Linked DNA regions of Homo sapiens. The protein of the gene in region 1 purifies or fractionates together with the protein of each later gene. This does not show direct contact. Each region holds a gene or a part of one and is shown on either strand. Other genes may lie near its edges.

Region 1 (3,828 bases):
CAATGATAATCTAGTACTTTTACAAAAAATATGTTTTAAGCTAAGAGTAGCCTTGTGAGTTACAAGCTATTATCATTATTTTATGTATGAGGAAATTGAGGACCCATTAGATTAATGAACTCGCTCAAAGCCACGAACCAAGTAAATTAAAAATATATTTGAACCCAGGTCTTTTTAAGTTCAATGATGGATTACATTATATATTTATTTACATATTTGTATTTTTTACAACTTAACAGCAGCATTTATTTAGAGATAATATAAGTTAAGAGTACAAATTCTGGCACAGCTCTGCTTGAGTTTGACTTCTGATTCCATAACTTTCTATCTGTGTGATTTGGGCACATAATGTAACTTCTCGGTGCCTTAATTTTCTTTGTAGAATAAGAATTAAATGAGTTAATATTTGTAAAGCATTTGGGTAGGTGTCTGGTACATGGTAAGTTCTATGTGTTATATTTTTTTAAATGTCATTCATTCAAAAAAATTTTTATTGTTATATGCCAAGCATTGCACTAAGCCTGAAGATACATAGACAAATAAGTCATATCCCTATCCTCAAGGATGTCGTGTCTAGTAGAGAATGACAAGAACATAAGTAATCATCCCAATCAGGTATAGATCTTTTACTTAATTAAAAGCATCATTTCTTGACAACTGTGTGCTTTTCCATGTGAATGTGATCTTCCAGAGCTTCATATAATGAGTGTTATAAAACCAAGTGATAAGATTTTGTGTTTTCATAATGATACTAACTTGTTTTCAATTCTAGTATCAAAACACAGAAAATCATATTAACATATGTTTCTGGCTTCCCTTATACATTTAGAAAACCAGCAATATAGAGAGGTTTGAGATCTTTAAAATTTTATATTAAAAGTGAATCATGAAGATAGAACATTGGAGAATAATCAGTAGAAAAAATGTTATCAGTATCTGTTCCTCAATACTTCTAACAGTAATTTTCTTGAATTGGCTTTTCAAAAACAGTTTTGTCTGATTAGAATGTAGTTTTGGTTTTGTTTTTAAGAAAAAAAATGTTTCAGGGAAGAAAGAGTGGATCACAGGATACAGAAAAATGTCCCTAATACAAGTTGGCAAGGCAACATATACCTCATTGAAGCTGGCAGCACTTCCTAGTCTATGCCTGCAGCTCTGCACAGCTGCCTGGTACCTCCAGGGTACCAGTGGATACCTGAGGTATAAGATTCTGTCTTTGTTAAAAATTAAAGTCCCTGTTTATTTTTTAAAAATAGCATATAAATTGGTATTCTTTGTACCAGAATAACACAGATAATCTAAACTCAAGGAGTTATTTCTCAAAGAAGTAAAGTACCTGGTTCAGTGAAATATTTAACTATTCCATTTCACTAAAATTTATGTTTAACTATTTCAGTAAAATTTATGTCTTTCCTCTCTCTTATCAAGTCTCAGACTACCTCCAGTTTTTCCCATGGATGCTACATTTTTCTTCCTCTAAGTATCGCTGCCACACCTCTAGTTTAAGTTTTTATTATCATTAATAAAATATTTATTCTCCTAATATTCAGTCACATTAAGTTTCTATGTGCTAACTTCAGTGTTATAGAACATGGTTAGACTTGTTTTCTAATCTTTAATTTCTCCCCCTCTGTTCATAATTATTCAGTAATGGTCCAAGGACTGCAAGACTTAGAACCCCTCTTCAGCCTGGTATTTAAGATGTTTCATGGTATAATCCTAGTTTAGCTTTCCTATCCAAGTCAGGTAGAAAACCTCAACAGCTCCTTAATTTTAGTTCTGAAGCTGTAGTTACACCAGAAAAATTGACTCCTGATTTGGAGTCCATTCTTCACTTTTAACCCTGTGCCCTTGCATGTCAACCTCAGTCTATATTCTTCTGCCTCAAAATTGAAGTGTGTGTGTGTGTGTGTGTGTGTGTGTGTGTGTCCCTTTACATCAATGGTTCCATTGTAGAGCTGCTTTTCTTTGGTTTTCATGTCTCGCTGCAACCCTAGTCTCACTCCCTGCCCTTTATTTGTCCGGTGGTTCAGAATTCAACATTTCAAATCTTACCTTCCTTCATCCTTAAAATGTATTAATCATTCTCCCATAACACATCTAACAAATTTCCATCCTATAGCTTTGCTCATATTTTAAAACTGAATAAATATGTACTAAGTGCCTATTATGTCCTAGTCAGGGGATATTGTGACAGATTACAGATCCTGATTTCATGGGGAATGGAAAAGACAGACAAACCAACAAACATTATACAGCCCTGTGGTATGTATTCCAATAGAGAAATGCCATGAGGGTGCCTAGCCGGACAACCAGCCCGGACATCAGGGAAATTTTCTAGGGAGGTTACCCTAAAGGGCATATGATTCAGCATTGAAATGACAGAACAGAATGAGCTAGATAAAGAGGGGAAGAAATGAAGTGTTACAGGCAGGACACCAGATTGTGGCTTGAAACAACATGGTGACTTGGGGAAACCACAGGTATTTTTGTTGCCCCAGCAGGGTTAAAGGACACAGATTATACACAAAGAAGCTTGCATGCCTACCATACTAAAGGGTTTGCATTTTATCAGGAAGATAGTGGGGGGTCCTTGAAGGAGTTAATATAGGTTACTGAAATAATCAGATTTGCCATTTTGGTAGATCTCTCTGGTGGAAAATAAGAGGCATATTAGATTGAAAAAAAGGATGGATACAGATTAACTGGACACACGCAGCCTTACTGCAGTGACAGAGGGAAGAATCAATTAGGGCCTCCTTGTTGGAGACAGAAAAGAAAAAAAAACGAAATTATTTTAAAGGTAGATTTTGTAGGATTTGGTGAACGATAGAAATTAGAGGTGAGATGAAAGAGAAAAATTGTATGATGAATTCCAGGCCTCTTTCATGGATAATAAGAGAGATGTGATGTCATTCACCAAGTCGGGACAAGGAGTATTTTGGACAGGCAAGATAAATAGTTGAATTTGGAGGAAAAAAAAATAATGTCTTTGGCTCATCCATGTGATGATGTTAAGTAGAAGTGCATATAGAAATTAGTGCCTCAAGAGAGAATTTGGTACTAGAAATATAAATTTAAGAGACATAGTGAATCTATTTCAGCTGACAGCATAGGAATAAAGCATATTATCTCTGGAGAAGTAAAAACAGGGAATAAAGAAAGAAAACATAGAGGAAAAAATTAAAGGTAGAAAATTAAAAGAAAAGTAAAACATCTTAGAATCCTGGAAAGCACCAATATTTAAAGGGAAATGGAAAACAATCCTGCAAAAAAAAGACAGAGATGAAAGACTACAGGAGAGAGACAGAGAGAGAGAGAGAGAGAGAGAGAGAGAGAGAGAGAGAGAGAGAGAAAGTAATTTTATGGAAACCAGGGAGGAGAAAGCGAGCACTCATGCGGGATGTTACCAGTAGATCAAGTGGGATAAGGATTGAGAGCTCGCAATTGCATTTAATTGAGAGCAATTTTAGTCGTGAGTTGGGTGTGGGTTGAGAAATAAATGTGAAATGAGGAAATGGAGACACTGATTGTACACAATAATTTCAATCAGTTTGAGACGCCTGCCTTACTTTATTTTCCCTTTTTGAAAGGTGCAGTCTCCTAAAGCTTAACTTACATGCTGCTTCCTTCTTTTTAGCCTTTCCTGGACAGCGTTTAATCCCCCCAACAAAGATGTCATATCACATCATGATTGATATCCCTTGTTTTAGAGTTTCCAGAGGTCCCATGCATGTGAGCTGTGTGCGTTTGCATGTGTATGAATATATAGGTATATATTAAATACCCATGTAGTATGTAAAGTATTTTTCTCTGTTGCCATGCATT
Region 2 (3,828 bases), on another chromosome or scaffold:
AAGATCTGATATGTTCTCACAGGGAAATTAGTTCAATTGCTACTCCAAGGCAGGTGGTAATCATACTCCTTCAATGTCCCAAACCTATTTTTTCATTCTTTCTGATAAACAAAATTATTAATTTAAAAAAGAAATGCAAAAACAACCTGTAGAATACAAAACAAAATGACGTACTGGTTTTTAAATAATATACATAAACACACAAACTACCAGTATAGCAAAGATTACCCAAAGTACCTACATCAACCAGGAGATCTGGGTCTATGCTAAATTGTCTTCCTGATAGCATGGCCTGGAAGTCCTCTAAACTGCAGTCAATACTGTCAAGATAATCCAACAGCTCAACCCTAAGGAAAAAAAAATTTTTTTAATCAAATATTAGATATCCTTGTTTTTATGTTTAAAAATCACCATTACAACTTGGCTAGGCAAGATATTTCTAGCAGCTGCTGCATCCTTACCGGTTCTTAATCTTAAGAGATCTTATTCTAGAGTAGGAATTCTTGAAAATCTGGTTAACTGAAAATTCATAGCCTTTACAGAAAACTTTAGTATTTACAGAAAAACACACCCTGCAGAACAGTCTGATTTACCTTTTTCCTCTATACTATATAAAATGTTTAATCTCATTACTGATTATTACTATTAAGTTTTCTTTGTTATAAGTACCTTACTAGAAATTACATTATTCTGTAGTTTGGATACACAAATATATATAATCACAAACACTGTATGTACACTCAAAGGAAGTATATCATCAAAGGAATCTGAGAAACTACCAGGAAAATACCAAGACTATTCTTGGGATGATTAAATCCCATTCATTACAGAACTCAACACTGACCAAAACAGAGAAAGGTGGACTATGTGGGTTCATCATCTGAAAGGAAGATTACTCAAAGAGAAACAGAACATGTGAAGTGAACAAAGAAAGCAAATAATTTTAGACAACATCTAGATAAGCACTCACTTTCCCAAAAGATTGATGTTATCATTCAAAATGGAATCCATCATGGTCACTGGATCTTCTGAGGTCAGACTGGATGAGCCATTTAGCTGGACAGCACTAGACATGAGAGGGCTGCTGCCATCACTGCCTGAACTTAGGGATTCTCTGGCTGGTTCATTCTGCTCTCCACTCTGAATGACAGGTGCATACTCATCTTCATTGTCATCTTCAACGATGACAATATCAGGGTACTGGCTACAGCTAAATCAGCAATAAAAGAAGGAACCTATTACATTTTCAAATTTAATAAGTTCATACTATCCATTCATTCTAAATGGAAACTCTCTCCCCATACCACATACTGAAAGGCTTAAATTTCTTGAGCGAGCAGCTTAATCACAATATTGGTACTTCATAGTATAGAAGACCATAAAGATTGAATGAGAAGTGCTTAACTCCAAAATAAAAATTAAAAATCAATTAGTTTTCAGTATACCTCCTTTGAGAGGAAGAGGAGGTGAGGTTTTATCTGGTTGAATAATTTAGCTTAATTATCAAGTTTAATAATCCAAATGTGAGAAAGATTATTATTTTTCAAAGAACAAAGTAGTTTTGAATTTTACTCTGTAATAAGAAAAGTAATCAATATTTTCATACATTTTATCTCACAAACTCCTTACTTGGAGGGATCAGATATAACATCCTCATTAGTTTCTGGAATAACTGGGATATTTTCTTCATCTGCATTATCATCAGTAACATCATAAATAATGATGTCATCTGAAATCCTCTCCCTTGGCTTTAAACCTTCAGTCCTACTGTGTGGAACCTAAAAATTCAGAGAGAAAAATATATCTAAAAATCAAAATCATTGACTACCAAACAAGATATCATCTACAAAATAACTAGGCAACTACTATTTACTGAATCTCGGGGTATGCAAAACAGGTGTGTTCTCTGCTCTTACGGAACTTACATAATAATTGGTACTAGCAGCACCAATTCACAGAGGTATGAGGTATATTAACTGCATTCTACACTTTACTACTTCTTTTACTGTAAGGGACCCTGAAGATGACACCCCTAAAAATGTTTCTATGGAAAGATCTTCAAATTTTAAAGTATTTTTTATGCCTAAAGAGTAAAAAAGTCTTAGGACTTCACTAGAAACTTCAAGCACGACCAGACAGCCACCATGCTGATAGGGATATTGTTTCAGCTCAAGATGCTCTGTTTTGAAATGTGTTTTATTCTTATTCATTAAATACCTTCACTAAGAGAAAAAAACGCACTTCACCTCTCTCAGTTACATGTTAGCTTGGCTTTTTAGCAATGATTTTTTTTTAAACTTAAGCTACAGATATATTCAGGCTACAGCTGTATTAATCAAACTAAGTTCAATCCTGTAAAGCAAACTAAAGTCATTATTAAAATGCAAAAAACTATAAATTCCAATACTAGATAATAAAGAGGCAAAGGATGTGAAGTACTTTAAAATATATAAACCCAGTTAAAAATATAAAAATCTTCATCCACTTACATGAGCCTTCAATCCTAAAAACAAAATAGGTATGCTTGATTATTTTCTAACAGTAGAGGGAAAAGAAATCAGATGTGAGGTTAAGTTTGATTGTCCAAGAACAAAAATCTTATTACTTTAATAATAAATCTAAAGAACTATTTTGAATTCTGAAGTTTGAAAGTAGTAACAAAAAGATAATAAAAAAGATCTGGACTTTGGACTGGACTAATTTGCCACTGGATAGAAATCTGACAAATTATCCAGAAAGCCTGTGACAAAATGAAGGTAAAAATTTAAATTGCTGGAGTAAAAAGCATTCTAGTTGGTGAACATTAATAAAAAAAAGTTGAAAATAGAATAACCAATGTAAGAATATATAATCACATTAAATTATAATAATTACATTTTCAAAATATTCAATTATTATATAATATTGAAATGAGTAAGCCAGGTGCAGTGGCTCATGCCTGTAATCCCAAAACTTTGGGAGGCTGAGGCAGGCAGATGGCTTGAGTCTGGGAGTTCGAGACCAGCAAAGGTGACATGATGAAAATCCATCACTACAAAATATACAAAAATTATCCAAGTGTGGTGGCACACACCTATAGTCCCAGCTACTCAGGAGACTGAGGCAGGAGAATTGCCTGGGCCCAGGAGGTGGAGGCTGCAGTGAGCCAAGATCATACCACTGCACTCCAGGCTGGGTGACAGAGTGAAATCCCATCTCAAAAAAAAAAAAAAAAAAAAAAAAAAAAAGAAATGAATAAACTAAATCGCTATGTTTAATAAATCTCAAAAGCAACATCAAGTTAAAAAAAAGCCACACTATAAAATGATATGCACAAAATGATATTATTTATATGAAGTTTAGATATATGCAAAATAATACCAAGTACTGCTCCTGGATTCACATATACAAAATGGCCATGAGAATGATAGATACTAATTCAAGATAGTGATTACCTCTAGGGTAAGCGAGGAAGAGTAAAGAGGGGAGACAAGAGACGGGGAGAGAGAAAAACTTAGAAACAGGCAACTGGAACAACTAGATTTGTGATGATTTATTTCTTACAATAATCTAAAGCAAATAATAAAAAATGTCACAATTTAACAAAGCTGTGGGATGAACACTTGAATTGTTATTCACCACACTTCTTTGAATGCATGAAACACTGCCATAATAAAATTTAGTCTGAGACAATAAATATAAAATAGACCCTAACTAAAAAATTACTTTATGATGATGATTATCAGTTGGTTCTTTGACTATGTGCTGAAACAGGTTCTTCTTTTGGGCTCCATTAGTGTTTAGAAGTAGAGGCCTGAAAACCAGAAGAATATGCAGTTCAGTGAAGCA

The links.
Region 2: the proteins of CALCR (region 1) and HSF2 purify together in Homo sapiens (affinity purification with a luminescence readout; one large-scale study listed by IntAct). This does not show direct contact.

What each region holds. Positions count from the first base shown.
Region 1 is NC_000007.14:93,568,037-93,571,864, reverse strand, and holds part of CALCR (calcitonin receptor isoform 2 precursor), read left to right. Parts: intron 1-3,828. UniProt on the Homo sapiens protein: G protein-coupled receptor activated by ligand peptides amylin (IAPP), calcitonin (CT/CALCA) and calcitonin gene-related peptide type 1 (CGRP1/CALCA).
Region 2 is NC_000006.12:122,420,100-122,423,927, reverse strand, and holds part of HSF2 (heat shock factor protein 2), read right to left. Parts: intron 3,794-3,828; coding exon 3,706-3,793; coding exon of another isoform or gene 3,694-3,705; exon of another isoform or gene 3,518-3,693; intron 1,779-3,517; coding exon 1,630-1,778; intron 1,211-1,629; coding exon 971-1,210; intron 348-970; coding exon 242-347; intron 1-241. UniProt on the Homo sapiens protein: DNA-binding protein that specifically binds heat shock promoter elements (HSE) and activates transcription. In higher eukaryotes, HSF is unable to bind to the HSE unless the cells are heat shocked.